2 linked regions of the Homo sapiens genome follow. The protein of the gene in region 2 interacts with the protein of the main gene of each other region in a pairwise test. Each region holds a gene or a part of one and is shown on either strand. Other genes may lie near its edges.

What was found. Proteins that work in one complex are often made in the same cells at the same time.
Region 1: the proteins of KLF15 (region 2) and GTF2B interact in binary tests that used the Homo sapiens proteins (3 or more experiments, as listed by UniProt).

The regions. Positions count from the first base shown.
Region 1 is NC_000001.11:88,860,568-88,864,067, forward strand, and holds part of GTF2B (transcription initiation factor IIB), read right to left. Parts: coding exon 3,414-3,500; intron 1-3,413. UniProt on the Homo sapiens protein: General transcription factor that plays a role in transcription initiation by RNA polymerase II (Pol II). Involved in the pre-initiation complex (PIC) formation and Pol II recruitment at promoter DNA.
Region 2 is NC_000003.12:126,342,135-126,344,771, forward strand, and holds the end of KLF15 (Krueppel-like factor 15), read right to left. Parts: intron 1,762-2,637; coding exon 1,593-1,761; 3' UTR 501-1,592; downstream 1-500. UniProt on the Homo sapiens protein: Transcriptional regulator that binds to the GA element of the CLCNKA promoter. Binds to the KCNIP2 promoter and regulates KCNIP2 circadian expression in the heart. Is a repressor of CCN2 expression, involved in the control of cardiac fibrosis.

The sequences.
Region 1 (3,500 bases), on a different chromosome or scaffold from region 2:
TTAAATACTAGAAAACAGAATCCAACAGCATATTAAAAGGTAGTATATCATGACCAACTAGAGATTGTTCCACAAGATATTAGAGAATCAAATAATGTAAAACATTATATTAATAGATGTAAGAAGAAAAATCATGATCATCTCCAAAGACGCTAAAAAGGCAAATGAACAAAATCAAAATTCGTCTTTGATAAAAACTCATAGGACGCTACAAATGAGTACTTCTTTACATTAGAAAACCACTCTCCTCTGCCCAAAGAAAGTACTATGATTAATGGAGAAACATTACCAGCATTATCACCAAAATCACAAGACAAAGGTACCTCCTACTGCTACCATTTTGTAACACTGATTGGAAAAACTAGCCAATAGTATTAAGCAAGAGAAAAACCGGAAGTACAAAATTGGAAAGGATGTGATAAACTATTTGCAGATAGTACCTTTATACACCTGGAATATGCAAGAAAATCACTAAAAAACAGCTGCTATAAATAATTCATTAAAGCAGCAAGGTCAAGATAAATAGAAATCAATACCCTTCATAAGTACAATCAACCAACTTAAAAGACAAGGAAAGCAAATTTTTCAATTAAAACAACAACAAAAATCTTGAAATAAACTTGAGAAACATGTGAGACGTTCATGAAGAAAACTTTCAAACATCTCCTGAAGGACACATAAGATACCTAAGGAAATGGAAAGGCATTATGAATTTTTGAATACAAGATTTATTATGAAGAAGCCAATTTTCCCTGTGTCAATTTGCAAATGAATCTGACCAAAACCCCAGTGAGAATATTAAATATTAAAAAACAGGCCAGGCGCAGTGGCCCATGCCTGTAATCCTGGCACTTTAGGAGGCTGAGGCAGGCGGATCACCTGAGGTCGGGAGTGTGAGACCAGCCTGATGATCACGGAGAAACCCTACCTCTACTAAAAGTACAAAATTAGCCAGGCGTGGTGGCACATGCCTGCAATCCCAGCTGCTTGGGAGGCTGAGGCGGGAGAATCGCTTGAACCTGGGAGGCGGAGGTTGCAGTGAGCAGAGATCGTGCCATTGCACTCCAGCCTGGGTGACAAGCGCGAAACTCTGTCTCAAACAAAACAAAACAAAACAGGCCGAGTGTGATGGCACACGCCTGTGGTCTCAGCTACTCAGGAGGCTGAGGCAGGAGGGTTACCTAAGCCTGGGAGTTTGAGGCTGCAGTTAGCTATGATTACATCACTTCACTCTAGACTGGGTGACAGAAAGAGACCCTGTCTCAAAAGAAGAAAACCAAAAAACCCCACAGGAAACAGAATCCAACAGGGTATTAAAAGGCAGTAATATCAACCAAGTGGAGACTGTTCCACAAATATATTAAAGAATCTAATAACATAAAACATCATATTAATAGAGCTGAAGAGGAAAATCATTTAATCAACTCCAAAGGTACAAAAAATGCAAGTGAACAAACCTAAATTTTTTTAAAAAATGAAACAAACTTAACCTTTAAATGGAAAAGACTAGCGAAGAAAATGCTGAAAAAGAGCAATGAGGGAAAACTAGTGCTACTAAATACTAAAACAGTGTTGTATGGCATTTGACTAACTGGACCAGGACAGGAAAAGATAGAAAGTTGAGAAATATGCCCAAGTACACATAGAAATTTATTATGTGATAAATCTAGCAGCTTAAAAATATTTCTATCTTGCCCAGGGATGGTGGATCACACCTGTAATTCCAGCACCTTGGGAGGCCGAGGTGGGTGGATCACTTGAGCCCAAGAATTGGGACAAGCCTGGGCAACATGGCGAAACTTTGTCTCTACAAAAAATACAAAAATTAGCCATGTGTCGTGGCCCACACCTGTGGTCCCAGTTACTTGGGAGGCTGAAGTGGAAGGATCGCTTCAGCCTGGGAGGTGGAGGTTGCAGTGAGACGAGATCAAGCTACTGCTGCACTCCCACCTTAGCGACAGTGTTAGAACGTCTCAAAAACAAAACAGACTATACAGGGTTCGGCATGGTAAACTCATGCCTGTAATCCCAGCACTTTGGGTGCCTGAGGCGGGAGGACTGCTGAAGACCAGGAGTTCAAGACCTGCCTGGACAAGAGTGTCACTCTGTTGCCCAGGCTGGAGTGCAGTCGCGCGATCTCAGCTCACTGCAACCTCCGCCTCCCGGGTTCAAGCAATTATTTGCCTCAGGCTCCTGAGTAGCTGGGATTACAGGTGCCCACCATCATATCATGCCCAGCTACTTTTTGTATTTTTAGTAGAGACGGGGTTTCGCCATCTTGGCCAGGCTGGTCTTGAACTCCTGATCTCCACCCACCTCGGCCTCCCAAAGTGCTGGGATTACAGGCATGAGCCACTGTGCCCAGCCAGACAGATTTTAAACAAGACTTTTTTGGAAAAAAAAAAAAAAGAGACTATGCAATAGTATACATGAAGTTATAAAATGGTGTATACTTCCTTGATTAGCCCTCAGTAATACCGTCACTATTACTTCCAACTCGGATAACAGAGTGAGAATCAGGCTGCCAAGAAAACTATACTATTGCCTTACACAATGATAGCAGCTACCACTGACTGAGCACACAGTATACAATACATGTTATATAAATACTTTACATACATTCTCATGAAACCCTCAAAAACTCTATAAGTACTCTTATTCTCATTTTACAGATAAGGAATGTAAAGTTAGGTAAGTCATAAATTCACTAATATCAGAAAAGAGGTTACACTAACCTCCCATTTATCTTAAGTGGTATAGAGAGAAAAGAGAAGACATTCTTTTCTTTTTTTTTGAGACAGAGTCTCACTCTGTTGCCCAGGCTGGAGTTCAGTGGCGCGATCTTGGCTCACTGCAACCTCCGCCTCCTGGGTTCAAGCAATTCTTCTGCCTCAGCCTCGCGAGTAAGCTGGGACTACAGGTGCCCGCCACCAAGCCTGGCTAATTTTTCTATTTTCCTTTTTTTTTGTAGTAGAGATGGGGTTTCACCATATTTGCCAGGCTGGTCCCGAACTCCTGACCTTGTGATCCGCCTGCCTTGGCCTCCCAAAGTGCTGGGATCACAGGTGTGAGCCATGATGCCCAGCTGAGAAGACATTCTTGATATTCAAAGAACATATCAATATTAACTCATGAAGGCCACACTACACTCATTTTTTGTGTGTACAGAAAATGTCATTTATGAAAAAAGGCCTGATATAAAGGCTTTATAATTTTGATTTAATGGTCTTCCCCACTTTAAGATGGAATACACACACAAGTTAGCCATCATTCACAATGATATTACTGGCAAATCTTATTAGACAGGTCAAGATTCCCCACTGGTGCAGTGACTGATACTTTTGCAAAGTTCCCAAACTCTCAGGTCTATGGTCACTCTGCAATTGGTATTTCCTGCCAAATGGACTTATTACCTTGCCAATCATGGTAGACAAATCTCCATCACTCAGAAGAGGATTCTGAGAATCTCCAACTCGAGATGGATCTTTTGTTGCTTTGTC
Region 2 (2,637 bases):
TCTCACCTCTGCCTGCTCAGGATTCCTAACACTTTCACAATTACCCACGCCAGTAGGAAATGGCACAGCCACGTTCCTAAGGGGGTAAATACTCTGCCAAGGCACAGCAAACATATAGGGCATGTGTAATAGGTTTGGTGGACTGGATGGGGGTAGGAAGTGCAAGAAAGGGTCTCCGATAGCAGAGTAGGTGAGCCTCGCAGGACTGGCCAGGCCTGAGGCAGCTTCCCACAGGTGCTGTCGGAATGTGGGCTGGATTTGGGTTTACGGAGCTCCAGGTCAGGGAGCCGGGATGAGCAGAATCTCAGCAGCTGGCCTGGAGCTGAGCTGTATGGGAACCCTACCCTGCTGGACCGGGGCTGGACCCCAAGGGGCCTTTCTATCCCTCCAAATACAAAACAGAGTTCCCTGAACTCTGCGAAGGTGGAGACATAGACTCGGCCCCAGAGTCACCTCCACATCCCGGCAAAGCAGGAAAACAGCACATGAATGCCAAAAGCTGTGAGTTCTTTTTCTTTTTATTGGCAAAGTAAATATATTTTTATGAAGGACCAAAGAAAATATACGTAATTGTAACATATGTACACCAGCTTCATAGATTTTTTTAAATTTCAAATTTACACAAATGTTGATATGTTATTAAAAGATATTTTATGTGGATGGACCTATGTACAGTTTATTTACATACATTCATAGGATGTGAAATAAACCTGTCAAAACAAGCTAGTTCATTTATTAATTTCTAGACAAAATAAGGAATGCATTTCTAAATCAGGGTTGGGAGGCTCTATCTAGTTCTCTCACACCCAGGACAGCCTGGCCCTCTCCTCCCAAGGCCACCCTAAAGGCTGGTGTCTGGATTTGTCTGGGAAACCGGAGGAGGGGACGAGCCCCTGGGTACAGGCCCTTCTGGCTCTGTCTGCCCTGCACATTTAACTCAAGCACATGCACTGCCAGCCCCCTAGTGGGGGACGCTTTTCACCTCTCTCCCACATGAGGGCCCAGCGGCCCGGTCCTGCCCCCCCCCCCCCCCCCCCCCCCCCCCGGCTCCAGGGACCTGCCCACACCCTCTGGTGATCATGCTGAGCAGGCATCTTAGACAAAGCCACCCTCACACCACAGTGCAGCCCTGGACTTCTGGCCTACTTCCTTCTCCTCCAGCATGACTCTCTCTGGAAACCCAACATTTCAAAACTGCACATTTCATCTTCCCCTAGCACTAAAGTTCTGGCCTTGGCCCAGGATGGGGGAGCCCAGTGGGAGAAGGGCCAGGTCCCCAAAACTCTGCCTGCAACCAGCGGCTGCAGCAGAGGCCTGGCCACCGCGGGAAGGCACGAAGGCACGAAGGCACGAAGGCCTGCCTCCAGCCCCGTGCGCCTGGGGCCCAGCCCCCAGGGACGCGGGTTCGAGGCTCTAAGTACTCCCGAGAAAGGCAGCGGTTGGCGGGCCCTGGGTTCACACCTCCCAGGCTTCAGAAGGTGGGCTGGTAACATTGCCATGTCCCTCTGGAGGAGGCAAATAAATTATTGCTTAAAAAAATGGGGATGGGGTGGGGATCCGGGGTGACGGACAGGCTGGGGTTCAGGGCGCTTTCAGTTCACGGAGCGCACGGAGCGGCTGCTCCGCGGGAAGCGGTGCACCTTGATGTGCTTGGAGAGGTGGTCGCTCCGCGCGAACTTCTTCTCGCACACAGGACACTGGTACGGCTTCACACCTGAGTGCGAGCGCCTGTGCCGCGACAGCTCGTCAGAGCGCGAGAACCTGCGGGACATGGCGCGGTCAGCGAGGCCTGGCCCTGCCTGCCCCTGCCTGCCCCGACCCCACGAAGTTGCCGGGATGCAAGGCGTGCACCTGGCACTCACCCAAAGGGTGGCTGCGCAGACCTGCAGCCTCTACAGGATTAGGGGAGGGTCCCCCATCTACGTCGGTAAGGCTATACCAGTTCTCAAAATACCATTTTTTTTTCTTTTTTTGAGACAGGCTGGAGTGCAGTGGCGCCATCACAGCTCACTGCAGCCTCCCGGGCTCAATCAATCCTCCTTAGCCTCCAGAGTAGCTAGGATTACAGGTGTGCCCACCACACCCAGATAGTTTTTGTATTTTTTTTTAGAGACCAGGCCTCCCTATGTTGCCCAGGCTGGTGTCAAACTCCTGGGCTCAAGCGATCAGGCTACTTCAGCTTCCCAAAGTGCTGGGATTAAAGGCGTGAGCCACTGTGCCAAGCTGCCCCTGCCACCCCTCCAAGATGGAAAGAACTACAGTAAAGGCTCATGCTGGCACAGTGGGCATTCTCTGTTGGGAACTGCCAGAGCAGCTGGTAAAAGCTCCCAACAGGAAAGGACCCCAATGCTACCAGGGACCAGGGCTTCCCTCCCACAGCCCACCCAGTGTGCAGGGGTCTCTGAGGCCACAGGTGCACTCAGTCGCTCAGGCCCTGATGCTGGCTGCCTCTCACCACCCTGGCCTCATCTACCCCACTGGACCAGAACTCCACAGGGGCATCTGTGAAGGCCTGTACAGGACCGCCCATCCGGAGGGGAAACGGAGGCCTGGGAGGAGGAAGCAGCACAGGGAGAGAGGTCCTCAGACTTGAGTCCACCCACTCCTGAAACCAGCTGTGCTGGAAGCTGGGCCCTC